Regions from separate parts of the Homo sapiens genome. Here region 1 is linked to region 2. A link means that fine-mapping ties the variant in region 2 to the expression of a gene that starts in the linked region. Tissue or cell type: whole blood. Region 2 holds a variant in brackets; the other region holds the start of a gene. All regions are shown on one strand. Distances are between the middles of the regions.

Region 1 (16,246 bases), 29 kb before region 2:
TAGCTTGCTCATCTGTAAAGTGGGTGGGGCAGGAGTTCCCACCTCATGGGGTCCTGGCAAGCCTGCAGTATCCCCGAGTGGCACCAGCCTGCTTCTGGGGCAGAGCAGTTTGTGCCCCCTGAGGTACCACTGATCCTCTTTCCCTGCTATTAGGTATTGCTCTCTTCCTCCGGTGTTTGCCTTTTCAGATTATAGAAGTAATATGTGTTCCCATATTTGGCGTCTCTCAGGAGCTCAGGAAGTACTTGGCTGAGTGAACATGTCCATTGTGGAAAAATGGCAACAATATGGATTCCATGGGTATATTTTATAGAAGAATATGAAGAAAAGCAGCTACCCCTAAACCCATTGCACAAGCTGTTCATGTTAATTCTGTACCCGACGCTTTCCCCACGGGGCCTCCCCTCACTCTGAAATGGCATCCAGGTCCATCTTGCCCTCCACCTCTGCATGGCTCTCCATGCCCCATCGCCTCTCCCAGATCCTAGCACTGGGTCCACACTCTCGCCCTGTCCATTTAGGTTGATGAAAGCAGGCAGTCACCCGGGTGGGCCAGTCTTGCCTGTGGGAGGAACATGCAGTCTCCTGTCTCATGGTTTGAAGTGTGCCAGGAAGCCTGGCCCAGCCCACCTCCCCCTGGAGTCCTTCCCAGGAGGAATAACCCCTTAGGTCATTGACTATAAGATGAGTTCGCTCACTGGATCCTTCCTCTCTGATGAGACAGGAAGAAGGTACACAGTGACCAGGTAGGAGGAGGAGAGGGAGTAGAAAGGAGGGATGCGGGTGGCTGGTCCCTGCATTTGCCTGCTTCCCTGCACGGGTGTCCCACTGGCCGCCTCTGCTCACCAGTGTCATGGGATTCTCTCAGAAGATGAAAACAGCCCCTGCTTTTTTGCTAGAATGGCTGAGCTTTCATGGAAAGGAAGCTGGACCCAAGCAACAGCCGACTACCGAAGGTTGCCTGGAGCAGTGCAGATGTGGGAGGAAGAAGGGCCTTGGTGCACACTGGCTTTTCTTCCTGACTGCAATGTGGCATTGTGCCAGCTACCTCCTCTTTCTCGGCCTCAGGAAAATGGAGAGAAAGCAGCCCTGAAGGTGGCTGTGACGAGGGAAGGGGCAGAGGGCCTGACAGTCAACCACGCGCTATATTTTCCTGTTCTTCCTTAGGGCAAGAACTGCATGGCCAGACTCAGGCAAGGCCTAGGTGTGGGCTGGGCATTGCCTACACGTGAAGAGATCACTCCGCGTCCCTACTGCACCTGTCACAAAGTGCCTTCTGATATGCCTGGCAAACCAAAATCGGTGAGCGCCAGCTTGCTTCCCTAGAAGACATTTCTAAATATTCATAACATGCTTGCTCAAATCAATCACCTTATTTTACATCCGCTCCAGGGAGAAATGAAGACATGGTCCTACGTTGTTCTGTAATTATTTTCTATGTAAATTTTGTTCCTTGTTACAATTATATATGTCTTAGGGGAAAGGACCATTTCACATGTGTCACCTCATGTGATTCTCACCACAGCCCTGTGATTGCTCCTGTTTTATAAATAATGACATAGTTCCAGTTGATGGCCAAAGCCACAGCTAACGAGAGGCAGAGAGAGCTCAGGCTCCCAGGAGCTTCCACTCTCAGACCTTGCCTCCCGGGCTGCCCTGAGTGAAACGCCTGCTTAGCATTTGGCACAGCCAGAAGCAGCAAGCTAGGGTCACAACACAGAGAGGGGCTGTGTAATACTGGCTGCCTCTGTGCTAAGAAAAAAAAAAAATCACTGTGTGTTTGTTTATTTTGGTGCAGGCCCAGTGTTCTTGCTTAGACTTAATACTACCCTTCATGTTAAAATAAAACCAAACAAAAACCCATGGCCTTGTTCTTCTTATTCATACGTAAGAATTTGTGCTTCTGGCTGGGGCAAGAGTGATAGAGGAGGGCACAGTATTTAAAAATTAGTTTCTCAAGATGTTCCCCCTTTGGAAAGCTACTCTTTTAGAAAGAAATGGGAAGCCGGGCGTGGTGGCACACTTCTGTAGTCCCAGCTACTTGGGAGGCTGAGGCAGGAGGATTGTTTGAGCCCAGGAGGTTGAGGCTGCAGTGAACTATGATGGCGCCACTGCACTCCAGCCCAGGTGACAGAGTGAGACCCTGTCTCAAAAACAAAGAAAAAGAAAGAAGGAAGGAAAGAAAAGTGAGAGAGAGCCGAGGGTGATGAGAAAAAATCGTTCTCAGGCTGAGTCCATTAGAGCTGAGCTGGCTGTGCCAACAAAGCATGTCAAGACACTCACCAGCTCCAGGCCACAGCTTCACTGCCTCCCTGAAAAACATGCCAACTGCCTAGAAGGGCCAAGGTGTACCCATAATGTTAACACAAACTTATAAAATAATGGCGAATGTCACAGTGACATTTAAGAATTTTGTAAGGAAACCAGGACAGAAAAGATCTTAAAACAAACCACACAGGAAGCTTGTCACAAGTCTCAAGTTTTTTATTTTCAGAACAGAGTCTGGTTTTATTTTTAAAAAGAGAAGGAAAAAAGTGATAAATGCTAGTGAGGTGCCACTTCCCTCCTTCTTCCAGGCTCTAACCGCCAGCTAGCTCTCTTTCACAAAACCCACGGATGCAGAATCAGGACATGTTAAAATGGAACAGTCTTTAGAGAGGGTCTAGTCTTTTTAAAATAAGTAAGGATTTGGGGACTAACAGAGAGGAAGCCCCTGACTTGCTGAATTGTTAGGAGCAGGCGGTTCTCGAGATTCTGAGCCCAGGATCCTTTTCTGTGAACCATGCACGTGCTGGCACTGGCCTCAGGAGACAGTGCCCTGCCTTGGCTGTCAGGTCCACGGAGAAATCTCAGGTTTGCCCCTTCACTAGGGATGCCCTAGAAAGCAAGGGCAAAGGAAGCTTTAGGGGTCATCGTGACTGGGGCAGGGGAAGTGAGTGCAAGGACTCAAGAAAAACACAGCAGAGGAAGGGACTGACCCTCTGAGCACACAGTGGTTGACCCACATGTGTAAAAGAGGGTGACTGGGGCTGAACTGGGGGCCTGATATCTGCCAGAATTGGCCAAGTTGCCATCAGCTTCTTGACATATCCAGGGAAGTGGCAGCTCATTGGAACTTATCACAGCCTCCCACCAAAAACCTAACAAACAGTACAGAGATTTTACAGTCAGGGAGGCCCAGCAGGAGATGGCCATCCAAACAATAGAAGGGGGGCAGATCAGGGGGCCAGCCAGCGGCTGGCCATGGCTCAGACACAATGTCCTTTCACAGTCACTGAGATTAGGTAGCAGAGAAACACAGCAAAGCTGGAGAGAGGACATGGGAACAGCGAGCAGCTGTTGGTACCCACCCAGGGCCCAGGCCCCAGAACCTTGAGTACAATCAAAGGGAGAGGAGAGGAGTCAGTGGGGGCAGGGGAAGAAGGCAGAAAAAAATACCAATTAAGTGTGAAATCCAGCCAGCTATTGGGCCACATAGGGTGAGGGACTGGAAGCACAGATTGTGCATGGAGTGTAAACATTTTCCCCCGCTGTTCCCTGCTCTGAGAGCATGAGGAGGCTCAAGAGAACTCTGGTCAAGCCTTCTGCCCCTCTTATGTCTGTCTACAAGGGTGTCTTCTGCTCCAAGCCCCCAAAACAGTTGTAAGAGGGGGCTTCAAGTGGGAGGCGGGGGCTTGGCCTGGGTGCTGAGTTAACGGCCAGTGACTTGGCACTTCTGACCCTCCCTGTGCACTCTGCAGCTGTGCCAGGCCCTGCCCCACACCCAGCCCAGGCACCCAAGCCCTCCCTCCGGCCTTCTCTGCTGGGGCTTCACACACCCAGTACAGAGCAGGGAATGTTCTGCAAGTGCAGCCTGGCTGGCTTCTCTCCCAGCCACCTTTACAGGGAGCATCAGGACCAGGGCTTTCAAGAGCCACAAACTCAAAAGAATGTGAGAGCTGAAATTACCTTCAACCTTAGAGATCACTCATCTAACTTCTACTTTTTTAATGTGAGAAAACAGGCCCAGGAAATAAAAATATGTCACTCAAAGCCAATGAGTGACAGAATCAGAACTAGAATCCACATCTTCTGGTAACTCGTCTAGAGTTTGTTACACTACATAAAACTTCCCAAACGTAAGAAGGGAGAAGGGGAAACAAAAATTCTTCAAGTTTCACCCCCACCACATCCTGTTGAGGGTGGAGGGAAGTGAGTATTTCCTGGCCTTGTTAGCTGCTGTCCTCCTGCACCCTTAAAATATGTAAAAATACTTATCCTGCCTCAAAGACTGCAAGAGTGACATTCCACACCGACTGTAAGTGCACAGTCCCCGGATGTCTCTTGTCATCACCCTCAATGAGAGGAAGAGGGAAAGTTCTGCAGCCTGCCTTGGCCCTAGTGAGACTCTTAACCAGACCAGAGGTGGGAGGTCACCACCTCACTTTCTGATCTACACTTCCTAGAGGAAGGACAGGTGGGGAATGGGGCTTCCTACTCCCTTGGGCCCATGGGAGGCCCAACTTCACATCCATCCAGGAAACCCACCAAAGCTATTACTCTAAGCCCAGATCCGACCCAGTCGGCACCAAACCACAGGAAGGATAAGAGTTCTAGGTGCAGAGGGAGGAACAGAGAGAGGCCAAGCCAATGGCTGATACTCCGCAGACCCTGTAATAACACTGGCACCAAACCCCAGCTGGAGCCAGTGGCCATGGCAAATGCAACTTCTGAGTATTTTGTCTTCATTTTTTGCAAGCAGCATCAGTGCATGATGCAACAAAAGTTGAAAGCACGGAGGTAGAAATGCTCACTCACCCAAGAAAGGGTGCAGTTTGGTCCTTAGAGAATGGATCCCCTCCTCTCCCTGAGCTGAGAAGAGAGGAGCAGTATTGAGGAAGATCCTGGGTGAGATTCTCCCTTCAAGGGGAGTACCTGGGCAGCTCCCAGGGGCCCAGCTCTTCCTGGGAATTCATGGTCACAAATCCAGGCAGAAAAGAGGAGGGTGGTGATAAGTATGGTGTAGGGGGCAGGGCCTCCCCAGATCTCCTACCCATTGCAAAGGGCCACAGGGTGGACACGAGAAAACAACACTACACACACAGAGACATACACTTTGTATCTATCACCTGGAAGAAATCCAAGAGACACATCAGTGGAAAGTGGGTTCTGGGTCAATTTCAAGGCATGGGACAATGGCCACTAACCACAGCCTAAAAGAGGCTGGCACTTCTAAGCAAGGGAGAAGGTCCAAGGCCCAGCACCCCTCTCCTCCTAATGGATGGGAATTAGAGTGGAGGTGGGCAAAGCAAGAAGCAGAGGTACCAGCCCCTTGGAGGTCAGGATTGGGGTAGGATAGGAGAAGAGAGGAGAGGGTAAGTGCACCTACCTCCCTCACCGTTAACTGCTGGTCTCCCTCCAAGCCGTCCTCACCCCAGGGTGCAGAAGAACACCCTGGCCCTTAGCCCTGAAAAGGGTTACCTCTTCCAAATAGACCCTGATCAAATCTAGGTGACAGAAGGTAGAAGACAAGGGGGTTGGGGACTCTCAACCCAAAAACAAGGACCCGTGCCCTTCACCCTCAATTCTGAGAGGCCACAGCCAGGGTGTTGACATAGCCATGAGCACCCCCCTCGTTCTCCGAGATGCAGTGGCCCAGCTGGGAGCCTCCCTGAGGTGGTGGCGGAGGTGGTGGAGGGGCGGAGGGCGGAGCACCGTAGCCCCCTCTGGCCCGACTCGGGGAGGCCCGATTGCCCCGGTCCCAGCAGCCCTCCAGGGCCTCCAGGCCCCGGCAGCCGAGGAAGAAGAGGTTCTTGAGCATGAAGATGGAGAGGGGCTGCTGGTAGCTGACCACCAGGAGGCAGCGCAGCGCCAGCAAGGGCACGTCCACCAGGCAGCCGCCCAGCAGGCGCAGAAGGCGGCTGCAGCTGCCAGGCCCGGAGGCCTGGCCCCAGGATGCAGCCGCTGCGGCCGCGGCGTTGAGCTCGTAGAGCCAGAGCACCGGCGAGGCGAGGGTGAGGAAGTAGACGGCGATAAGCAGGTAGCGCAGGTGCGCGGGCAGCGGCACGCGGCCCTCCAGCATCAGCTCCACCAGCGTGAAGCTGTCGAGCAGGTCCAAGCACGTGCCCAGGAAGCATCCGGCCGCGCGGTGCCGCTGGGGCTGCAGCAGCAGGGGTCCTGCCGATCCCGGGGGCGCGCCCGCCTCGCTGATGGCCCGCACCAAGCTGTAGAGCAGGGGCACCGACAGCGCCATGGTGAGACGGAAGCCCGTGGTGCCGAAGGGCGCGCGTAGCTCGATGAGGTCTAGGATGGACGTGCCCAGGATCAGCACCACCTTGGGAGTGAAGGCGATGGAGTAGATAAGCCAGGCCAGGTAGGCGAAGGCGAACTCGCCCGCTGCCGCGGCCGCCCCCAGGCCGCCCCCCGCGCCGCCGGCGCCCCCGCGGGCTCCGCGTGCCTTGGCCCCAGCGGTAGCGGCCGAGGGGGCGGGCAGATGCAGGGGCGGCGCGGCGTGGTGGTGGTGCAGGTGGTGGTTGTGCGCGCCGCTGGCTGCGCCGCCCCGACGGCCCCGGCTGTTCTTGGCGAAGAAGATGGCCCAGCCCACCACCACCACCAGGTCAGTGGCGATCCAGGAGCACCAGTACAGGTCGGTGACGGCGATGAGGTACAGGTCCAGCAGGCCGCCCTGCGCCAGCAGCAGCACCACGGACAGCGCCTGGTAGCCCCAGCGGCACCTGGGACTGGGGGCGCAGCCGCGGCGCCGACCTCTGCGGCCGGGGCGGTCTGGGCAGCCGCAGCAGCAGCAACACGGGCAGCAGGAGGCGCCGCTGCCGGTCCCGGTGCCGCCCGCGCCCCCCGCCGAGCGGCTCCCGGGGCCCCCGACGGCCCCGGCCGCGGCGCCCCCGCCGAAGTCCGCGGCTGTCATGCTGCAGGAGGAGGTGGGCGTGGAGGTGGAGGAGGAGGTGGCCGCTGAGGAGGAGAAGGCGACAGGCGCGGGGCCGGCGGGGGCGCCCACCTGAGCCGGCGGCCCCAGGAGCGCGGCGTTGGGCACCAGCGGCTTGCTGACGCTGAGGCTCTCGTCGTCGTCCTCGCGCTCGGCGCCCGTGCTGCTGCTCGGGGAGCCGCCGCCCCCGCCGCGTCTGCCGCCGCCTCCCCCGCGGCTGGTGCTGGTGCTGGTGCTGCTGTCGCCGGAGCCTCTCCGGCCGCGGAAGGAGCCCCCGCGGAGGAAGAGGGGCTGCAGCCGGGCGGCTGCCGGGGGCGGCGGGAAGGAACCGGACGCGGAGGAGACCGAGCGAGGGTGGCCGAGCGCCGGGCGCATTGTCCTCCGAGGGGCTCTGGGGCCGCCCAGCTGTTCCCTCCCCGCCAACCCCGGGCGGGCGAGGCGGGCTAGGCGGCCGAGGGGAGCCGGGGCCCGCCGCCTCCCCAGCAGTGGGGACTCGCACCTGGGCCGGGCGGCGGCGAGATCCGGACTGGAGCCACTGGACTGGGCGAGCCGGGCCGGGCGGCAGGGAGAGGGGGCAGGCGGTGAACCGAGCGGACCGCGGTGAAGACAGGCGAGGCGGGGGCGGGGCGGGGCGGGGCGGGGAGCGAGTCCCGCCGGGAGGGAGGGAGGCTGGCGGCGGGGAAACCAGGACTGGATTCGAGGGGGAGAGGAAGCAGCGAGACCAGAGGAGGAGAAAGCGCGGCGCGCTGGATCAACGGGAAGAGAAGGGGCGGGGGTGCAGTGCGTCACAGTCGGGTCGGGAGCCCTGTGGCCTGGAGGAAGCGGGAGGAGGCGCGGGCAGCCGCCAGGGCGAGGCGACCCGGTGCGGGGGGACTCCCATGGAGCGCGGACTCCTAAGGAAGTCGCTGGGAATCCCACCGGCTGTACCGCAGGGCGTTAGTACCTAGATGGCTTCGGTGCCCCCAAGCGATGGGCTCAAGCTACAGGGCGGGCTTTGCACCTGGCCTTCTCAGCTCTGAGGCAGGCAGTGGGCAGCTTCGCCTCCACCCTCCGTCCAGCGCCCTTCCCATGGGGCCATCCGCCTCTCCCTAAGGCACTAAAAACCAGTGGAGGAGTCAGGCCATGTTGGCAAAAAGGGCTCGGGCAGCAGCCCCAGACCTATAGTCCTAAATATCCATGTACCCAGCCCTGGGGTCGCGAGCCATCTCAGGGACGACCCGATTCCAGCGGATGGAGAAGTTCCCTGAAAACACCTGCCTGGGAGGAGAGACGAGGGAACGAGATTGGGCAAGTGGCATCCGCCCAGCGGGCTTCTCAAAGGTTTTTAAAGCAGAATGGGACGTAATAGGAAGATGTGTCTAGCAGAGAGTAAAATAAAGGGGCATTTAGAGGTGTGGGCACCTGGATGAAAACAAAGGCTCCAAAGGGATGATGGTGAGGGTTACAGCCCACCACAGTAGACAGAGACACCAAGGAAGGAATGCAGTCAGTGGCCCTGCGTAGACAGTCTCAGGAGAGAGCACACCAGCTCACCCCAGGACTCATCCAAGGCTGGGGATGGATGTCGATGCAGCAACTCTGGAAGGCAGAAGGTAGAGTGCTGCCTTTAGGGGTTTAAGGGAGAAGGAAATGACTAGAGCAGTTGGGGCTCAAAAACAATCTGAGGTTCACCAATAATGGAAACATCCCATTCCCAGCCCCATGAAAACAAGGCAGAAAGCTTGCCTGCCCTATTGGCCTCTGCACCCTTGTGGGGCCTGTGGGCTCCCTGATTTCATGACCTTTGAAGCTGCTGCTGCGGGCTCATCTCCCCTAGGTAACAGCTTGCAGCGTGATAACACCATGCAGTGTGAGGGAGCTGTATGCAGTGGAGCCGCAGGGGTTAGTCAGGCCTCGCCCCTAAATCTGCCTCTTAAATAAGAGTCCGTTTCAGCCAAACCTGCCTTTTCCAGTTCCGTGGAGGTCAGTCTGCACAGCCAATCCCTGGTAAATATACAATTTAGAACCTGCACCATCTCCACCTCCCCCACACACACCACTTTTGGAAAGCTGGCATGGTGGTGAGGGCAGGAGCTCTGGGGCCGCCATCCCACCTGTGCCACTTAACACCTTTGTGGTCTTAGCCTGAATATTTCACCTCAGAATGTTGATCTGTAAACAGGACCCCACCCCAGCCGGGCGCGGTGGCTCACGCCTGTAATCCCAGCACTTTGGGAGGCCGAGGCGGGCGGATCACCTGAGGTCGGGAGTTTGAGACCAGCCTGACCAACATGGAGAAACCCCATCTCCACTAAAAGTACAAAACTAGCCGGGCATGGTGATAATCCCAGCAATTTGGGAGGCAGAGGCGGGCAGATCACCTGAGGTCAGGAGTTTGAGACCAGCCTGGCCAACACAGTGAAACTCCGCCTCTACTAATAATACGAAAATTAGCCAGGGGTGGTGGCACGCACCTGTAATCCCAGCTACTCGGGAGGCTGAGGCAGGAGAATCGCTTGAACCCGGGAGGCAGAGGTTGCAGTGAGCCAAGATTGTGCCATTGCACTCCTGCCTGGGCAACAAGAATAAAACTCCATCTCAAAAAAAAAAAAAAAAGGACCTCACTCCTACCTTAAGGGATTGTTGTGAGTATGAAGAGAGATCATGTGTGTAATCTCTCTTCGATGACAGAGCCAGTCCCTGGCTCAGAGTCCATGCTCAGTTAAAGGTCTCTGTGTTATCATCATTCCATTAGCCCATGCCTTAGCCTCCCAGGGAACATCGACTCATAGCAGGGGCCACCAATGGCTGTTTTCTGCCTGGACTCTTGAGTTCTGCTCCCCAGTAGCGTTGCACTTTGGTAAGTGCCCAGGAACAAAGCTGCCATGGTTAGGAGCACTGATTCTTGGAGCCGGTCTTCTCAGGCTCACAGTGTGAGACATTCAGGGTGCCAGTTGGGGCCAGGGTCCACCCATGTGGGGCAGGGTGAGGTCAGGAGTTCAAGACCAGCCTGATCAATATGGTGTTTCACCAATACTCCGTCTGGGGGGAAAGCAAACAAACAAACACTTCAGTCCTACCTGAGGTGCCCAAAAATAAACAAACAAACAAAAAACCTGGCCGGGCACATTTGAGATCAGCCTGGGCAAGATAGCAAGACCTCATCTCTAAAAATAATTTTTTTTTTCAAGACAGAATCTTGCTCTATCCCCCAGGCTGTAGTGCAGTGGTGCGATCTCGGCTCACTGCAACCTCCGCCTCCCGGGTTCAAGCGATTCTCATGCCTCAGCCTCCCAAGTAGCTGGGAATACAGGCGCCCGCCACCACACCTGGCTCATTTTTGTATTTTTAGTAGAGACAGGGTTTCTCCATGTTGGTCAGGCTGGTCCCGAACTCCCGACCTCAGGTGATCTGCACGCCTCAGCCTCCCAAAGTGCTGGGATTACAGGCATGAGCCACCACACCTGGCCATAAAAATAATTTTTTTTTTAAGTAGCCAGACGTGGTGGCATGTGCCTGTGACTCCTAGCCACCCAGGAGGCTAAAGTGGGAGGGTCATTTGAGGCCAGGAGTTCGAAGTTACAATGAGCTATGATCATGCCACTGTACTCCAGCTTGGGTGACAGAGCAAGACCCTGTCTCAAAGAAAAGAAAAGAAACCTTTAGATTTCAAGTATATAGTAGTCCTCCCTTTATCCATGAGGGATTCATTCCAAGACCTCCAGTGGATGCCTGAAACTGAAGATATACATATACTATGTTTATTTTCCTATACATACCTATGATAAAGTTTAATTTATAAATTAGGTACCATAAGAGATTAAGAATAGTAACTAATAATAGAACAATTATAACAATATATTATAATAAAAGTGTATGTGAATGTGGTGCCTCTCTATCTCAAAATATCTTAATATTTTCAGACAGTGCTTTACCATGGAACTGAAACCATGAAAAGTGAAACTGCAAATGGGAGAGACTGCTGTATAGTCACTGAAAAATTAATGGATGAGCTCAACAGCAAATTAGACACAACTGAAGTGAGTAAATTTAACAATATATATGAAGACATTCTCTAGAATGTAGTACAGAGAGCTAGAGACTGAAAATATCTAGGAGACAAGAGACATGAGAGATAGATTGGAATATCCAAAATATGTCTAACAGAAGCTCCAGAAGGAGAATATAAAACAATAAGGGAAGGACAATACAGAAATTTGAACTGAGAATTTTCCAAAATTGGTGAAAGAACTTCTCCAACCCACAGATTTAGGAATTGCAATGAATCCTAAACAGGATGAATAAAAATAAACATGCTCCGAGATGTTTTCAAGTAAAATTGTAGAACTCTAGACAAGAAAAAGATCTTAAGAGAAATCAAACAGTAAAAAAAAAATTACTTACAACAAACAACAATTAGATTAATGGCAGACTTCTCATCAGAAATAACAGAAGTCAGAATGCAGTGGATGGTAGAAATAAAGCTAAATAATCAGTAATCACAATAGATGTCATATTAAACGACACATGATCAGATGGATTTTTTTTAAATGTCCAGTTATAGGCTTTTATAAGAAATATCCCATGGCCTGGCATGGTGGTTCACGCCTGTAATCCTAGCACTTTGGGAGACTGAGGCAGAAGGAACCCTCAAGCCCAGACTGGGCAACAAAATGAGATGCCATTTCTACCAAAAAAAAAAAAAACCATTTTTTTTTTTGAGGGACGCAGGTTTTGTTTTTGTTTTTGTTTTTTTTAATGGAGTTTCACTCTCGTTGCCCAGGCTGGAGGGCAATGGTGAGATCTCAGCTCACCACAACCTCCTCCTCCCAGGTTCAAGCGATTCTTCTGCCTCAGCCTCCCGAGTAGCTGGGATTACAGGCATGCGCCAACACACCCAGCTAATTTTGTAATTTTAGTAGAGACGGGGTTTCTCCATGTTGGTCAGGCTGATCTCGAACTCCTGACCTCAGGTGATCCTCCCACCTCGGCCTCCCAAAGTGCTGGGATTACAGGCGTGAGCCACCATGCCCGGCCTTCAAAAAATCGTTTTTAATTAGCCAGGTGTAGTGATACATGCCTGTAGTCCCAGCTAGTCAGAAGGCTGAAGTGGGAGGATCCCTTGAGCCCAGGAGTTGGAGGTTGCAGTGAGCTATGATCACGCCATTGCACCCCAGCCTGGGTGACAGAGCAAGACCCTGTCTCAAAAATAAATAAATAAAAGAAAAAGAGAAACATCCCTAAAATATAAAGACAAACAAAGTAAAAAAGGGCTGAAGAAAAAATACACAAATATAATTTAATGCATGTATATAATTAAACTAGGCAAATATCAACTTTAAAAAGTGGGTTTGGCAATATTAATACCAAAAAAATAAACTATATGACAAAGAATATTCTTAGGGATAAAGAAGTTCACTATGTAATGATAGAAGACAGTACACCATAGTAGTGAAGGGCACATACTCTATAGCCAGACTACCTGGATTCAAACCCTGACTCCACCATTTAGTTTTATTTTATTTTTATTTATTTTTTTTATTTTTTGGAGACGGAGCCTCACTTTGTCACCCAGGCTCGAGTGCAGTGGCACGATCTCGGCTCACTGCAACCTCTTCCTCCCAGGTTCAAGCAATTCTCCTGTCTCAGCCTCCCAAGTAGCTGGGATTATAGGCGCCCGTCACCACACCCAGCTAATTTTTTTTTGTATTTTTAGTAGAGACAGAGTTTCACCATGTTGGCCAGGCTGTTCTTGAACTCCTGACCTCAGGTGATCTGCCCACCTCGGCCTCCCAAAGTGCGGGGATTACAGGCATGAGCCACCGCGCCTGGCTGACTCCACCATTTAGAAGCTGAGTGACCTTAGGCAAATTACTTAATCTCTCTTTCCTTGATTTTCCCACTAGAAAATGGGGAAAATAATAGTACCCACTTCACAGAGTTGTTATGAGGAGTAAATGAATTAATAGATAGAAAGTGCTCAGCACAAAGTGCTATATACATATTTGCTGCTGTAAAAGGACCAAGTTCCAGAAAGACCATAGTTCTGAATGTGTGTGTATTCAATAACATTGCCCTAAAATATATAAATAAAAATGGGTAATATTTATGAGACACTGGCAAATAACCTAATGATAGTAAGAAATATAAACACATCTCTCAGTAATTGATAGTTCACACAGATAAAACATTGGTACAGATGTATACAAGTTGAACCATATCATTAACAAGCTTGATCTAAATGGCTGAATTTAGAGCTCTGTACCTCCAAAACTAGATACTACACATTGTTTACAATTTTACATGCAACATTTACAAAGCCTGACCATGTACAGACCAATCCTTTGACCTCACAACAATTAGATTAGAATAAAATAACAAAACAACGACCAACCACCCCCCACATATTTGGAAGTGTAAAGACATACTTCCAAATGAATCATCCAAAAATTAGAAAATATTTAGAACTAAATGAACATGAAAATACCACCTGTCAAAATGGATGGGACATAGCCAAAGCAGAAGAAGAACATTTATAGCTTTAAATGTTTGTGTTACAAAGGAGAAAATTGAACATTTAATAAGGTAAACATCCAACTTAATAAATTGGCTGAGCACAGTGGCTTGTCATTCCAGCACTTTGGGAGGCTAAGGCAGGAGGGTCACTTGAGGCTAGTAGTTTGAGATCAGCCTGGGTAACATAGCAAGACGTTGTCTCTATAAAAAATTAAAATATTAGCCAGGCATGATGGTACATGCCTGTAGACCCAGCTACTTGGGAGGCTGAGGTGAAGACCTCTTGAGCCCAGCAGTTTGAGGCTACAGTGATCCATGATCACACCACTTCCAGCCTAGGCAACAGAGTGAGATCCTGTCTCAAAATAAGTAAATAAAAGTTGGAGAAAGAAAAGCAAGTACAATGAAAACACAAAGAAGGAAATATGGTTGGGCATGGTGGCTCATTCTTGTAATCCTAACACTTTGTTTTTTGTTTGTTTATTTGTTTGTTTTGTTTTGAGATGGAGTCTTACTCTGTCGCCCAGGCTGGAGTGCAGTAGTGCGATCTCAGCTCACTACAACCTCTGCCTCCTGGGTTCAAGCAATTCTCCTGCCTCAGCCTCCTGAGTAGCTGGGACTACAGGCACACGCCATCATGCCCGGCTAATTTTTGTATTTGTAGTAGAGACGGGGTTTCACCATGTTAACCAGGATGGTCTTGATCTCCTAACCTCGTGATCTGCCAGCCTCAGCCTCCCAAAGTGCTGGGATTACAGGCGTGAGCCACCGCACCTGGCAATCCTAGCACTTTGAGAAGCCAAGGCATCAACTTTCAAATTGGGTAACAGGTAGAGGCTGAAAGAGTTTTGAGGTGTATGCTAGAAATGTGGACATTAAGGGTGATCCTGATGAGGACTCAGAAAGAAAAGAGGAGAGCTGTAGCGAAACCTCAATCTTCTTAGAGAATACCTAAGTAATCCTGAACAGAATGCTGGTGGGAATATATAGTAAGGCCATTCTTTATTTTTTTTTAATTTTTTTTTTTTTAACAAAGTCTCACTGTGTCGCCCAGGCTGAAGTGTAGTGGTGTGATCTTGCTGCAACCTCCACTTTCTGGGTTCAAGTGATTCTCCTGCCTCAGCCTCCCGAGTAGTTGGGACTACAGCTGCATGCCACCACACCCGGCTAATTTTTGTATTTTTAGTAAAGACGGGGTTTCACCATGTTGACCAGGCTGGTCTAGAACTCCTGACCTCAAGTGATCCACCCGCCTTGAGCTCCCAAAGTGCTGGGATTACAGGCAGTAAGGCCATTCTGATGGGGCCACAGATGGAAATGAAGAACATTTACTGGAAGCTGGACAAAAGGCCATCCTTGTTAGGAAGAAGCAAAGAGCTTAGCTAAATTGTGTTCATGTTCTATCATTTTGTGGAGGTAACAATTGCAAGCAATGAAACTTGCAATTGGATGTTTGGCTTAGGAAATCTCTAAACAAAGTATTGAAGGAGTTACCTAGCTCCTTCTGACTGCTTCCAATAAAATTCAAGAGAGACATAAATGACTTAAAGACAGAACTGTTAAGCAAAAAGTAATAAGAACTTGAAATTCTGAAAAATGATCAGCCCATCCATATAGAAAAGAACGAGAACCCAGTTTGGAGAGAACACTAACGGTGTTGCTCTGTTGCCAAGCTCCTTTAGTAAGAGTAGTATGGATCAGCCATTGCAACAGAAGCTAGGAGCTGTTCTCCAAGATAATGGAAGAAGGACCCTGAAGGCAATTCAGAGATCATGAGAGTTGGCACTCCCATCACCAGCCCAGAGTGCAAGGACCCACAGTGCAGAGCAGATTCAAAGGCTGGCCACCTCTCTGGTCCAGGCCAACCAAGGAGCAGGAATTAGGCCCTCACCAGACACCAAATCTGCTGATGCCTTGATCTTGGACTGTCCAGTCTCCAAAAGTATGAGAAATAAATTTCTGTTTTCACAGGACACCCAGTCTATGGTCTTCTAATAGCCTGAATGGACTAAGACATAGACCAATTGCACTTATGAACATAGACAAAGAACTCCTGAACAAATTACCAGCAGTAGCGGCCAGCAACATGTAACATAACCAACTTGGTTTTATCCCAGGGATGAAAGAAAGAGTTAAAGATGACAACAGGCTGGGCATAGTGACTCACGCCTGTTATCCCAACATTCTAGAGGCCAAGGTGGGAGGAGCGCTTGAAGCCCAGGAGTTTGAGAGCCGCCTAGGCAACATGGCAAGACCTCACCTCTACAAAAAATTAAACAATAAAATTAGCTGGGGTGTGGTGGCACATACCTGTAGTCCCAGCTACTTGGGAGGCTGAGGCGGGAGAATTGTTTAAGCCCGGGAGGTCGAGGCTGCCGTGAGCCAGGACTGCACAACTGTACTGCAACCTGGGTGACAGAGAGAGACCCTGTCTCCAAAAAAAAAAAAAAAAAAAAAGATAAAAACAAAATATATTAATATGGTTTACCATATTAACAGATTAAAGGAGAAGAACACTTAAGATCAACTCAACAAATACAGAGAAACAAACATTTAATATCTATTCATGAATTTCAACAAAAATTGAGCAAAACAAAATTTTTTGCTCTATTGGTCTTGCTCTGTTGTCCAGACCAGAGTGCAGTGGCACAATCATAGTTCACTGCAGGTTTGAATCCTGGGCTCAAGCAACCCTCCTGCCTCAGCCTTCCAAGTAGCTGTGACTACAAGCATGTGCCACCACGCCCAGCTATTTTTTTGTTTGTTTGTAGAGAGAGGGTCTCCCCATGTTGCCCAGGCTAGTCTCAAACTCCTGGACTCAAGAGATCC
Region 2 (13,946 bases):
CTCGAGGGTCCACTCCATCCCCAGGCCATGGTAGTCTTGGCTCTGCCACTAAACAACTATGTGACCCGGGACAGGTCACTCCCCTGTGTGGGGCTGTCTCTGAGCTATTCCGAGATCTGTTCCAACTCTGACATTCTGGTTCTCCACAGAACTTGCACAGGTCAGGGAGAAAGCCCTCACAGGGGAGGAAGTGCTCTGTTCCATCAGAAAGCGCTGGAGGAGGAAGGACTTAAGCTATATCAGCAAATAAAAAGTAAGTTATCTGTTTATAACTGCATGTCGTCAAACTGTGAGAATGGTCTGACTCAAGACCTGGGCTATGTGATACACAGACGGTGCGATGAGGAGAAAGTGAGCCAACGGGCACCTCAAGAGATGGCAGTCATGCTGCAGAGGATCACCAAGGGATCAGATGAGTTAGGGGACAAAGTCAGTGCTCAAAAATGAGCCCAGCGCACAGGGCACCTGGGCAGATGTGCAGACTGACCAGTGCTTCCTCTGCAAGCAAGCTACCTCTCCCGAGGGCAGCTCAGTGCCGGGCCTCAGGATTGCTAACTTCACAATGGCCAGCTCTCCTGGGCAGCACTGGGAAGGCCAGCCAGTAAGTCTGGAACTCCTTGTTGGACGGGATGCTGTGGCTCTGAAACGGGTTCCCAGCTAATTATAAGCAATACAGAGAGGACAGGGCATAAAGCCGTTCGCTTCTCTGGGCTTTTTCCTTTTTTTTTTTTGAGACAGGGTCTCACTCAGCCGCCAAGACTGGAGTGCAGTGATCACAGCTCACTGCAGCCTCCAACGCCTGGGCTCAAGCAACCCTCCTGCCTCAGCCTCCTGAGTAGCTGGGACTATAGGCATGCGCCACCATATGTGGCTTTTTTTTTTTTTTTTTTGAGACGGAGTCTCGCTCTGTTGCCCAGGCTGGAGTGCAATGGTGTGATGTCAGCTCACTGCAACCTCTGCCTCCCAGGTTCAAGTTATTCTCCTGCCTCTGCCTCCCGAGTAGCTGGGATTATAGGCATCCATCACTGTGCCCAGCTAATTTTTGTATTTTTAGTAGAGACGGGGTTTCACCATGTTGGCCAGGCTGGTCTGGAACTCCTGACCTCAGGTGATCCACCCGCCTTGGCCTCCCAAAGTGCTGGAATTACAGGTGTGACCCACCATGCCTGGACAATTTTTTAAATTTTTTTGTAGAGACGGGGTCTCACTATGTTGCCCAGGCTGGTCTTGAACTCCTGGGCTCAAACAGTCCTCCTGTTTCAGCCTCCCAAAGCGTTGGGATTACAGGTGTAAGCCACCGCAGCCAGCCTCTGGGCCATTCTCATAAATTCAGGGAACAAAACCCTTAGCCAGATGTGCCTCCAAAGAAGCATGGACAAATCACAGCTCTGCAGGAGGGCTTGCAAGGTCAGCGACACAGCCAATGCAGGGCACTGGAGGAGTGAAGGATGAAGACACAGCCCAACCCATGCTCCTTATTACCGTGGTCTTTAGCCGCCGCTCCAGGTCCACCATGTCAAGCAGAGGAAAGGCCATCCGCAGCTCATCCACGGTGACGACATTTCGGAAGCCCAGTCTGGAGCAAGCTCAGGAAGTAATGCTGGACAGTTCTTGGGGAAGATGCCTTTCTGAATGCATCAAATCACAAGTGAAGGGAACACAACCCACTCCTGATCAAGCCAGGCAGGAGGGCACCAAGCAGAGCCCAGCAAGGATGGCACAAATCCTGCAGGTGCTGGCAGGCAGGCTGTAACTGCACAGGTAGAGTAGAGAGGGCAGCTCCTGGGTAACCCACCAGCAGTCACCAGGCACATGCCAGCTACCAGGTCCTATGCTGGGCACAGCCTAGGGGGCAAAGGCACATAAGAATCTCTGTCCCCAGCTGGGTGCAGTGGCTCATGCCTGAAATCCCAGCACTTTGGGAGGCTGAGGCAGGAGGATGGCTTGAGCCCAGGAGTTCCAGCCAGCATGGGCAACATAGTGAGACCTTGTCTCTACAAATAAAGTCAGCTAGGCATGGTGGTGCACACCTGTCGTCTACTCAGGAGGCTGGGGCAGGAGGATCATTTGAGCCCAGGAGGTCAAGGCTACAGTGAGCTATGATTGCACCACTGCACTCCAACTTGGGCAACAGAGTGTGACCCTGTCTCAAAAAAAAACAAAAAACTCTGTCCCCAAGGAGCTAGCACATTCAGAGCCCATCAAAACCAGTGTTCTCTGAGAACAGTGCTGCTAGTCAGTGCTGAGTTCAGAAGAGACTCCTCAGTGGGCTGGGGAGTCCAGAGGAGTCATGGAGAAGTAGGGCTGGAGCTAAAATCTTAAAGGATGAACCCAAATCATCAAGGAAGAGGCGGCCTTGGGGAGGGGCAAGCCAGCTTCAGCCTATCTCCTCTAAGATCTGCCTCCATTTTCCTATCCTCAATTCCAACTTGCAATCTTAACTGGACATGGTTTGATTACTCTCAAAATGAATTTCCCCAAAATCCTGATTCTATCAGATTGCCCCATCAGCAATAAAGCGTGCCCTGCTTTCCACTGCCCTGAGAAGTCGGTCAGACTCCTCAAGTTTACTTCCAAGGTTCCCGACAACCTGGCACCACCCTTCCTGTTCTTTCCTTCCTCTCCCTATCCCATTCCCAACCTCCTACTTCCCCTGCTTAGGAGCTTAGCCATCTCCTGGGGCTCCGCTGTACCCCTCCAAGAAGCCACAGGCAACTCCTGCCCCAGGGATACTCCAAGCCCTCCCCTCCACACCTGTGGCGCCCTCCTGTGAGCTTACCGGCCTTCAATCACATGCCATCGCACACGCTCCACACCTGTGACGCCCTCCTGTGAGCTTACCGGCCTTCGATCACACGCCATCGCACACGCTCCACACCTGTGGCACACTCCTGTGAGCTTACAGGCCTTCGATCACACGCCATCGCACACGCTCCACACCTGTGGCGCCCTCCTGTGAGCTTACCGGCCTTCAATCACACGTCATCGCACACGCCCCACACCTGTGACGCCCTCCTGTGAGCTTACCGGCCTTCGATCACACGCCATCGCACACGCTCCACACCTGTGGCACACTCCTGTGAGCTTACAGGCCTTCGATCACACGTCATCGCACACGCCCCACACCTGTGACGCCCTCCTGTGAGCTTACCGGCCTTCAATCACACATCATCGCACACGCCCCACACCTGTGACGCCCTCCTGTGAGCTTACCGGCCTTCAATCACACGTCATCGCACACGCCCCACACCTGTGACGCCCTCCTGTGAGCTTACCGGCCTTCGATCACACGCCATCGCACACGCCCCACACCTGTGACGCCCTCCTGTGAGCTTACCGGCCTTCGATCACACGCCATCGCACACGCCCCACACCTGTGACGCCCTCCTGTGAGCTTACCGGCCTTCGATCACACGCCATCGCACACGCCCCACACCTGTGACGCCCTCCTGTGAGCTTACCGGCATTCGATCACACGCCATCGCACACGCCCCACACCTGTGACGCCCTCCTGTGAGCTTACCGGCCTTCGATCACACGTCATCGCACACGCCCCACACCTGTGACGCCCTCCTGTGAGCTTACCGGCCTTCGATCACACGCCATCGCACACGCCCCACACCTGTGACGCCCTCCTGTGAGCTTACCGGCCTTCGATCACACGCCATCGCACACGCCCCACACCTGTGACGCCCTCCTGTGAGCTTACCGGCCTTCGATCACACGCCATCGCACACGCCCCACACCTGTGACGCACTCCTGTGAGCTTACAGGCCTTCGATCACACGCCATCGCACACGCCCCACACCTGTGGCGCACTCCTGTGAGCTTACCGGCCTTCGATCACATGCCATCGCACACGCCCCACACCTGCGACGCCCTCCTGTGAGCTTACCGGCCTTCACATGCCATCGCACACGCTCCACACCTGTGGCACACTCCTGTGAGCTTACCGGCCTTCGATCACACGCCATCGCACACGCCCCACACCTGTGGCACACTCCTGTGAGCTTACCGGCCTTCGATCACACGCCATCGCACACGCCCCACACCTGTGGCGCCCTCCTGTGAGCTTACCGGCCTTCAATCACACGCCATCGCACACGCCCCACACCTGTGGCACACTCCTGTGAGCTCACAGGCCTTCGATCACATGCCATCGCACACGCTCCACACCTGTGGCGCCCTCCTGTGAGCTTACCGGCCTTCGATCACACGCCATCACACACGCCCCACACCTGTGACGCCCTCCTGTGAGCTTACCGGCCTTCGATCACACGCCATCGCACACGCTCCTTTACTGCTCATGGTGTTATTCTTGCCTCCAGCACAAGCCCTTGATTGATTCATAAGTCCTACGCCCTCATCCTGGTCCTCGTCCCATTCAGAGTGTGCGGCAGACCGCTGGTACACAGGACGTGCTCAGCACAACAGTTGCTTAAAACGGGCCAGGTATTATTCCGCAGGCTCCCAGAGACAGGCTCCCGGTAGCTGCTTCACTACCACTGGCTAATAAACTGACTGGGCACCCCAAGGAAGAGGCTAGAGCAGGGGTTCCCAAACCCAGTTACAGAACCACTAAGAGAGGTGTTTTGTTTTTTAAAAAATACAGATTCCTGAGTTTTACCCGAGACCTAGTGAATTAAGGCTCCAGCGCAGATACCCTGGGATCTGTATTTTAAGCTCCCCAGAGGATTCTGATGCAGGGGTATGAGAACTGGCTTTTGGAAACCACCAGACATGAGGACTGACCACAGTCGGGAGCTGTCCTCCCTCCCCTGAGCCCACAACATCGCCTGTGTACCCCAGCACCCAGCACTCCTCACTACAGTCCCCACTCAGCTAAGGGAGGAAACACCTCAGCCCTGCCCCTTCCCTTCAGCCAGAGTTAAGACCAAAAGGATACCCCTGGGCATTTTCCATCACGGGCCCCTGTCCAGACACCAGCATCCGCTTCTCATGGTACTCGGAGAAGAGCTTCATGGGGCTGTGAGAGAGGATAACTTGGTCTGCATCCACCTGTAGGGACAGCCAAGACAGGGGAGGGCAGAGGAAGACAGAACTGTTGAGGGAAATAATGAGACAGGTGGCAGGTCCTTTAGCCTAGGGAAGGAAAAAACCCGCTCAGAAAAAGAACGGGGAGGAAAGCCCTTTCTAGCACCCAGCAGCACTTCTGAAAGGCACCCAAACAGATCTGAGAAGAACCTGTCTCATTTAGTTCTTGCCACACAAGAGACCAGAAATGCCACAGATGTGGGTTCTGACCACTTGCCACCGCTACCCCGTCAGGTTCAGTTTGGATTTCCCAAGCCCCCACTTGGAAGCCATAGGGTTCATGTGTGCTCCCTGTCACTGTCGCAGAAACTGGTCTTTTACTTTCTATTTTCATTCCTGCTAAGAGTTAGCTGCTTAACATTTATACTAACCCTAACAATGCAGCCTTTACTTGGAAGGTTTTTGGAATTCTCTCTGGAAATCACAGCAAGGAACCAATTTGATTCCGTCACATTTTACATGCAACTTTGAGCAGCATCATCTAATCAATCAGCTATTTTATTTACTCTCCTGGTTCCAAAGGACTCTTTCCAAAAGCTGAATTCACCCTCAACAAACAAGAATGCATCAAAGTTGGGATATGGTGCAGGGCTGCAGGTGGCTGAGGAGGACAGCACTCCTTCAGGTGCACACATCATACCCAGGAAAGCCAAGGTGTGACGCCAGAGCCACACCTGCTATTCCTGCTATGCAAGTTCTAGACATGTGTGTGACCTTTGCTTTCCAGGGACTCACACCCCCAATGCCCAGAAGAAAAGAAACAGATACAAGGACATAATCTACAACTGCCAAATACACAGGCAGGATTTCTGTGTTCAGCTGTGGCCATGACCTAGGACTAGGTGATTCCATATCCCAACCCAGGGGAAAGGGACTTGGAGCTGGGGCAGCGGCTCCATTAGGAACCAGGTCCTTGGGCTTCCATGCCTCTGGCTGCCTTCTCACCTCGCACCCCAGCAGGGCTGACAGCTCCTGGGCTTTGCTGTGTTGTAAGATGTTCCCAGCATTTGTAACAAAAACCACGGGCACCCGCAGCTGCCCCTGGGAGTTCACCAGCCTTCGGAAGGCTTTCAGAGCAGCAGGGATCACTCTGTGGCCCCGCACAAGCACTCCATCGATGTCCAACAGGAACCCAAAGGTGGGTGGGCTCTGCAGAGATGGTAAGATAATTACCAGTACGTGAGTAACAAAGAAACAACCCTTACAAAGAGAGGCTCAACACCATCCTCGGGTCACTCATGTCCCTTGAAAACCTATGTCAGAAAGAACAAAAAAATGAAGATGGGATTCTGATAGGGCAATCTTTAAATAGAAAATAGAGAAATCCAAAGAAAATATAATCCCAACACTTATTTTTAATCATTCGCTTTTACAGAGTCTTCCCGTTGCCCAGACTGGAGTACAGTGGCATGATCACGGCTCACTGCAGCCTTGACCCACTGGGCTCAAGGGATCCTCTCGCCTCAGCTTCCTAAATTTAATGCTAGGATTATTAGGCGTGAGCCACCGAGTCCAGCCTAATCCCAACACTTTAAAACAACCAATTAATAGTTCCCCTTTTTTCTCTATTCTCATATTTGTCTTGTAGCTACAAATGAACTATATGCCATTTTACATCATCTCGTTCTTTTTTGCTTGACATATCATAAATATTTTTATGGATTACAATAGTCTTTATAACCATCTTTTAAGATTTTATTATAGCAAAAAGTTAAAAACAAAATAACCTCAATCACTACAGACAATATAAAAATGTTTCAAAAGTTTCTTGTCTCCAACTTACTTAGTCCTATTCCTGTCCTGCATAATTTCCAGAAGGCTTTTATAAATCTATAGTATACACACCTTTCTAATGTTAACACACACATAGAATCATGTTGACTTTGTTTTCCATCTTACTTTTTTAGTTGGTATCTCTTGGCTGTCTTTTTTTTTTTTTTGAGACAGAGTCTTGCTCTGTCGCCGAGACTGGAGTGCAGCAGCGTTATCTCAGCTCACCGCAACCTCTGCCTCCCACGTTCAAGTGATTCTTCTGCCTCACTCTCCCGAATAGCTGGGATTACAGGTGCACCCCACCATGCCCACCTAATATTTGTATTTTTAGTGGAGACGAGGTTATGCCATGTTGACCAGGCTGGTCTTGAACTCCTGACCTTAGGTGATTCACCCACCTTGGCCTCTCAAAGTGCTAGGATTACAGGCTTGAGCCACTGCACCCTGCCCTATCATTCCATATTAATTATGCATAGCTCTATTTCCTAAACATCATTTCTGGCTACATACTATTCTGAGTGAATAATTCACTAATATTGTTCTCTATATTTTGGACAGTTAGGTTTTTCCACAATTTTGCTATGAAAAATAATGCTACAAGGAACCTCTTCAGGAATACTGATTTTTTTCCCATATTATGGGTATTTCCTTGAGCTAGATTCTTAAAAATAGGAGTAATAAATCAGAGAGAGCAAATGTAATTACATAAACACCAACTGACAAACTGCTGTTCAAAAACATGTCCACTGGCAACGTACTTTACCCTTACAATATTGATTTTCACAACTGTTAATTATCAAACTTTTTTATAATTTAAAGGTAAAAAAATTATCTCTTTTCTATCTGCATTTCCTGGATTTATAAAGCTGAATGCTGTTTTTAAAAATCATTCCATTTCTCATTTTATAAACTGCCTGTTAACATACAAGATGTTCTTCAATCATCAAAAAAACCTAACCTAACTTGTTTGCTATTTTTCTTTGTTGGTGCCAACTAGGTCAAGTCATTCTTACTGACACACCTACTCTACGCACAGAGCTCCCTTTATAGAGCAACCAGAAACAGAAATGGCGCTACAGGCCAGGTGTGGTGGCTCACGCCTGTAATCCCAGCACTTTGGGAGGCTCAAGAGGGTGGATCACTTGAGGTCAGGAGTTCAAGACCAGCCTGGCCAACATGGTGAAACCTCGCCTCTACTAAAAATACAAAAATTAGCTGGGTGTGGTGGTGGGCGCCTGTCATCCCAGCTACTCGGGAGGCTGAGGCAGGAGAATCACTTGAACCTGGGAGGCAGAGGATGCAGTGAGCCGGGATCGTGCCACTGCACTTAAGCCTGGGCGACAAAGCTAGACTCTACTAAAAAAAAAAAAAAAAAAAAAAAAAGAAGAAGAAAGAAAGAAGAGAAGAGAAGAGAAAAGGCGCTCCAGTACCTACTTTTTAGCTAAGGTGACAGAGCAAGCAACCAGCCTAGAAAGCAAACTCTAAAACAGCAGCATTTTTGCAAGTGCAAATCAATTCTAGGTAAGTTCTAAATAAATAAACAGAATTAAACAAAGGCAGTTTCTTCAAAGAGAATTTTGAGCCAGACAATGAAAGTGTTAAATACATCCTGTAACAAAACTCTTTGCACCCCCCAGTCACCCCCAGACTAGATGAGTGGTTCCTGCCTGCCTACCTGGTTCAATGAGAAGACAATTAGACAGGCAGCCCCAGGACAGTCTACAGGGAGCCTTGCACTAAGAGATAGGCCCACACCAGAGGAACCTGACCCACAGGGGTGGGGAAGATTGGCCATCACAGGTCTCCGAGGCCAATTTAAGGAGTTTGAAAATGGAAAGTGGTATCATCAGACCTGAACTATAGAAAAAAATTTGGCTGCAGAGAAAAGACTGCATTGGGTGGACTGAAGGGAGTTAACTGAAAGACCAGGTGGGACCAAATGCAACCCAAGACAGAGAAGATGGAGCATTTACCTGGGAGAGTGGTGGTAAGAATGGAGATCAGGGGGCATTATCAGAGACAGAACAGTCATGACTTGGTAACCATCCAGATACAGGGGTGGAGGGAAGAGGGAGCCACACGGACTCCCATGCTTTTTTATTTTGGTCTGGGAACCCGGGAGGGTGGATGCGGGTATGAGTCACTGAACCAAAGGGCACAGTAGGAGCGGGCAGCGAGAGGTCATTGGAGGATACAAGGTTAAGTCCCACTTTGGACCTGGGAGACAGGCAAGTGGAGACATCAGCACTGGACAGGTCCTGGAGATGAAAATTTTGGAAGGTCTCGCCTCTCAGAGAACCAGGAAGAACAATACTACTTAATAATGGACCACACAAGACCTGCCAGCAAAAGACAGTGCAAGGAGGAAAACCAAGAGCGTGTGGGGTCCAGGAAGCTGAGGTATGTCTCGGGTCCAGTAAAACAGGGACTGGAGTGGCTGTAATGATCCCATCTTCTTTCCACTGAACAGGCAAGAC[C/G]CCCGGGAGAGGCAATCTTCCAGCTCCTCCTCCATGTTAGCTTGTACATGAGCCCTCCAAGCTTGGACAATGACAGCTACAGAGCCAAGCAGGAGGAGGGCAGGGACCCTGGAAAAACAGGAGGAAGCAACTCGAGCCAACAAGATATCACACCTGAACACCAAAAAACAGCTGCCAAGAGAAAACTGACCAAGCCCCACACGCCACACAGGAAATGCCTGGACAAATGGTGCCTCTAACCCTTGGCTTCACAGGCTTATGCTGTTGCACCCAGACCTGTCACTGTCCCAAGCACTCAGCCAGACATGTAACAAAGGCATTTTTATGTATTCTTTTTGGCAGCCCTTTGAGGAAGTGTCAGCATCTCCAAATGGCCTTGCCTGGCAAAATGTGCCGGTTTATACAAGGTGTTCAATATACAGGCACTAAATTACCTGACTGGACAAATAAGGCATCAACCTCAAAAAGAACTCAGCAAGGGTCACCCAGTTCACAAGTGCTGGATTCAGGATTCAGTCTCAAATTCAGCTGGCAACTCGGCAGCACCTCAGAGAAAACAGGGGACCCCAGGACTGCTTCCCCCACCTCCTGCCAGCTCCCAGCTGTGAGTTCCATTTCTTCTCTCTCCTCAATACACTCATGTACCCTCAAGGATCCCTGGAGCCCCTCCCTATTCCCCAAGAAATCTCACTAGAATGGGGGTCCTAACCTAGGCCCACAGATAGATTTCAGGATGGCCATAAATCCCCTTTAAACACTACAAGCATTTTTCCTGGGAAAAGTAACCATAGCACTTTTCGGATTTCATTTTCTTATTCTTCTCAAGGAGAATCACTACCTGGGCTTAAAGGGAGGAGGGGATGTGATTTGCCCTTTACCCCCATACCTGACACAGTGCTTAGACTCACAGGTGATTGACAAAGGCTGACTGGATGCTGAATGACCCAAAGGATAAATGGTTAGGGAGAAATAGATACTTCCCGACCACCCTATCCCTTTCTGAAGGAAAAGAGTGGCTCTTAGAAAGTAAGTCCCTTAAGGACTGGGTGATTCCAACACTTTTTTGTGGCGTGATCTTGGCTCACCGCAACCTCCATCACCTGGGCTCAAGCGATCCTCCCACCTCAGCCTCCCAAGTAGCTGGGACTATAGGTGCGCACCACCAAACCCACCTAATTTTTGTATTTGGCAGAGATGCGGTTTCCCCAGGTTAGTCTTGTCTCAAAGCTGGTCTCCAACTCCCAACCTCAGGCAATCTGCCCACCTCGGCCTCCCAAAGTGCTGGGATTACAGGCGTGAGCCACCGCGCCCAGCCAACAATTTTTTTAAGAAACAGTGTTTCTTTAAGAAACTTGGCTGGGCACAGTAGCTCACGCCTGTAATCCCAGCACTTTGGCAGGCCGAGGTGGGCAGATCGCCTGAGGTTGGGAGTTCGAGACCAGCCTGACCAACACGGAGAAACCCTGTCTCTATTAAAAATACAAAATTAGCTGGGCGTGGTGGCACATGCCTGTAATCCCAGCTACTCGGAAGGCTGAGGCAGAATTGCTTGAACTCGGGAGATGGTGTTTGCAGTAAGCCAAGATCACATCGTTGCACTCCAGCCTGGGCAACAAGAGGGAAACTCCATCTCAAAAAATAAATAAATAAAAACAAAAAATAAATAAATAAATTTTTAAAAGGCCTAGATTTTAAGTGATATTAAGGAATTACTAATGTTGTTAGGTATGATACTGGCATCGTGGTTATGTTCAGAATGTCCTTATTTTCTTTTTTTTTTTTTTTTGGTTGAGACAAGACAGGGTCGCACTCTGTCACCAAGGCTGGGTGCACTAGTGTCATCTCAGCTCACTGCAACCTCAACCTCCTGAGCTCAAAGGATCCTCCTGCTTCAGCTTCCCAAGTAGCTGGGACTACAAGTATGTGCCACCACATGCCTGGCTAATTTTTTTTTTTTTTTCTTTTGTAGAGACAGGGTCTCCCTATGTTGCCCAGGCTGGTCTGGAACTCCTGGGCTCAAGTAATCCTTCCAACTCCCAAAGTGCTCAGATTACAGGTGTGAGCCATGGCACCCAGCCAGAATGTCCTTATTTTTCTTAGAGGTACACACAGAAGAATTTAGGTTTGAAATGACAAGAAATCAGAGATTTACTTTAAAATCTTAGAGCCACAAAAAAAGGAGGAGGGAGATAAGCAAAGCAGGTGTTGAAAAATGTTAATCATTGCTCAATCTGGGAGATGGGCACAGGGGTTCATATTATTCCCCATTTTTGAATTTTTGAAAACTTACATAGTTAAAAAACAGCTCATTTGTACAATGGTTGCAAAATTTACCATACATAGTTTTAACGGTCATTGCCTAAACAGTCACAAGATTTGCTTTCCTTTTTTTTTTTTTTTTGTTTGGTTGGTTTTTTTTGAGACGGAGTCTCACTGTCACCCAGGCTGGAGTGCAGTGGTGCAATCTCGACTCACTACAACCTCTGCCTCCTGGGTTCAAGTGATTCTCCTGCCTCAGCCTCCCAAGTAGCTGGGACTACAGACGCGCGCCAACACACCTGGCTTATTTTTTATATTTTTAGTAGAGACGGGGTTTCACCATATTGGCCAGGCTGGTCTCAAACTCCTGACCTCGTGATCCGCCCGTCGCGGCCTCCCAAAGTGCTGGGATTACAGGCATGACCCACCGCGCCCGGCCCAAGATCTGCTTTCTTAAAAATAAGAATCCATAGCCCCTGCTACTTAGAACAGCAAAGTTTTCAGGAAAATTGAGCAATATCCATAAGGCTCCCTCACCCATCACTCCAACCCCTCCCCAACCTTCAGGATGTACACAGAGAACCAGGCACCCAGTACCATAAAAAGTGAAGGTGTACATCAATTATAACAAATGTACCACACTAATGCAAGATGGTAATACAGTCACGCACCATAACGATGTTTCAGTCAATGACACACTGCATATACAATGGTCCCTTAAGATTATAATGGAACAGGAACTCATAGCTGAAGAAGAGGCAAGAGAAAAGGTAGCCACAGAAAGAAAAGAACATCCAAGAAAATTCACAGTGAAGGGTTCAGCAGCTTTTACAGACCTCAAGTTCCTTAAAAAGTCTGAAACATGAACTCCAACGCCAAAAGGTTTTCATTACTAGAGAAGAATGTTTATGGTACATTATCTGTTTACAAGCAAACCTATGACAAAAAAAAAGAAACCAAGCAAACCACAATGGACATATTTCTGATAAGAGTGACACCTCAAGAGCCTCAGAGAGGTCCTTCAGAAGATATCCAGAAGAAAGCACTGTTATCGCAGATGACAGTTCCATGCATATGACTGCCCCCTAAAGACCTTCTAATGGGACATGGTGTGAAGGCAGAAGACAGTGATATCAATTACCTGACCCGACCTTATGTAGGCCTGGGCTAGTAGGTGTTTGTGTCTTCATTTTTAACAAAAGTTAAAAAAAAAAATTTTTTTTAAGGTAGGGCACTGTGGCTCACGCCTGTAATCCCAGCACTCTGGGAGGCCAAGGCGGGCGTATCATGAGGTCAGGAGTTCGAGACCAGTCTGGCCAACATGGTGAAACCCCATCTCTACCAAAGATACAAAAAATTAGCCGGGCGTGGTGGTGCACACCTGTAATTTTTTTTAATAGAAAAAAGCTGCCTGTAATCCCAGCATGTTGCAAGGCCAAGGAGGGCAGATCACGAGGTTAGGAGATCGAGACCATCTTGGCTAACACAGTGAAACCCCATCTCTACTAAAAATCCAAAAAATTAGCCAGGCGTGGTGGCAGGCACCTATACTCCCAGTTACTCCGGAGGCTGAGGCAGGAGAATGATGTGAACCCAGGAGGCAGAGCTTGCAGTGAGCCGAGACCACGCCACTCCACTCCAGCCTGGGCAACAGAGCGAGCGAGACTCCGTCTCAAAAAAAAAAAAAAAGCTGGCTGGGCACGGTGGCTCATGCTTCTAATCCCAATACTTTGGGAAACCAAGGCAGGCGGATCATGAGGTCAGGAGTTCGAGACCAGCCTGGCCAACACAGTGAAACCCCGTCTCTACTAAAAATACAAAAATTAGCTGGGCGTGGTGGCAGGCGCCTGTAATCCCACGTACTTGGGAGGCTGAGGCAGGCGAATCACTTGAACCTGGGAGGCAGAGGTTGCAGTGGACCGAGATGGCGCCACTGCACTCCAGCCCGGGCAACAGAGCTAGACACCGTCTCACACACATACACACACACACACACACACACACACACAAAAGAAAAAAGCTATGGAACAATGATATAAATGAAGATATATTTAGTACAGCTGTACAATGTGTTGTGTTTTAAACTAAGTGCTATTACAAAAGAGTAAAAAATTTTAAAAATTAAAAACTTGGTAAAGCAAGAAAGTTAAACTAAGGTTAATTTTCTTTTTTTTTTTTTTTGATAAGAGTCAGGATCTGTTGCCCGGGCTGGAGTGCAATGGCCCGATCTCCGCTCACCGCAACCTCCCTCCCAGGTTCAAGGGCTTCTCCTGCCTCAGCCTCCCGAGTAGCTGGGATTACAAGTAATAGATCCATTACATAGATGGGGAAACTGAGCTTGGAAAGCTATGTAAATTGCCTTAAGTGAAGCCGCTAACAGAC

What was found. PIP is the estimated chance that this variant, and not a neighbour inherited with it, causes the effect.
Region 1: it holds the start of TMEM121B, and the variant in region 2 is fine-mapped to the expression of TMEM121B in whole blood (Lepik 2017, PIP 0.95).

The regions. Positions count from the first base shown.
Region 1 is chr22:17,113,831-17,130,076 of GRCh38, forward strand. TMEM121B (transmembrane protein 121B) reads right to left here and starts at 7,530. Exons shown (of 1, transcript NM_031890.4): 1 at 2,467-7,530. The coding sequence starts at 7,297. The coding sequence ends at 5,561. LINC01664 (long intergenic non-protein coding RNA 1664) reads left to right here and starts at 7,765. Exons shown (of 4, transcript NR_103793.1): 1 at 7,765-8,209; 2 at 10,825-10,941. IL17RA (interleukin 17 receptor A) reads left to right here. Exons shown (of 13, transcript NM_014339.7): 13 at 1-1,863. RefSeq lists a silencer at 7,242-7,371 and an enhancer at 7,957-8,488.
Region 2 is chr22:17,143,542-17,157,487 of GRCh38, forward strand. HDHD5 (haloacid dehalogenase like hydrolase domain containing 5) reads right to left here. Exons shown (of 8, transcript NM_033070.3): 2 at 6,001-6,204; 3 at 4,907-5,019; 4 at 1,483-1,576. Among named protein-coding and RNA genes, the nearest start is that of HDHD5, 8.8 kb to the right of the region's middle. RefSeq lists an enhancer at 1-330. The variant C/G (reference allele first, on the strand shown) is at 9,306.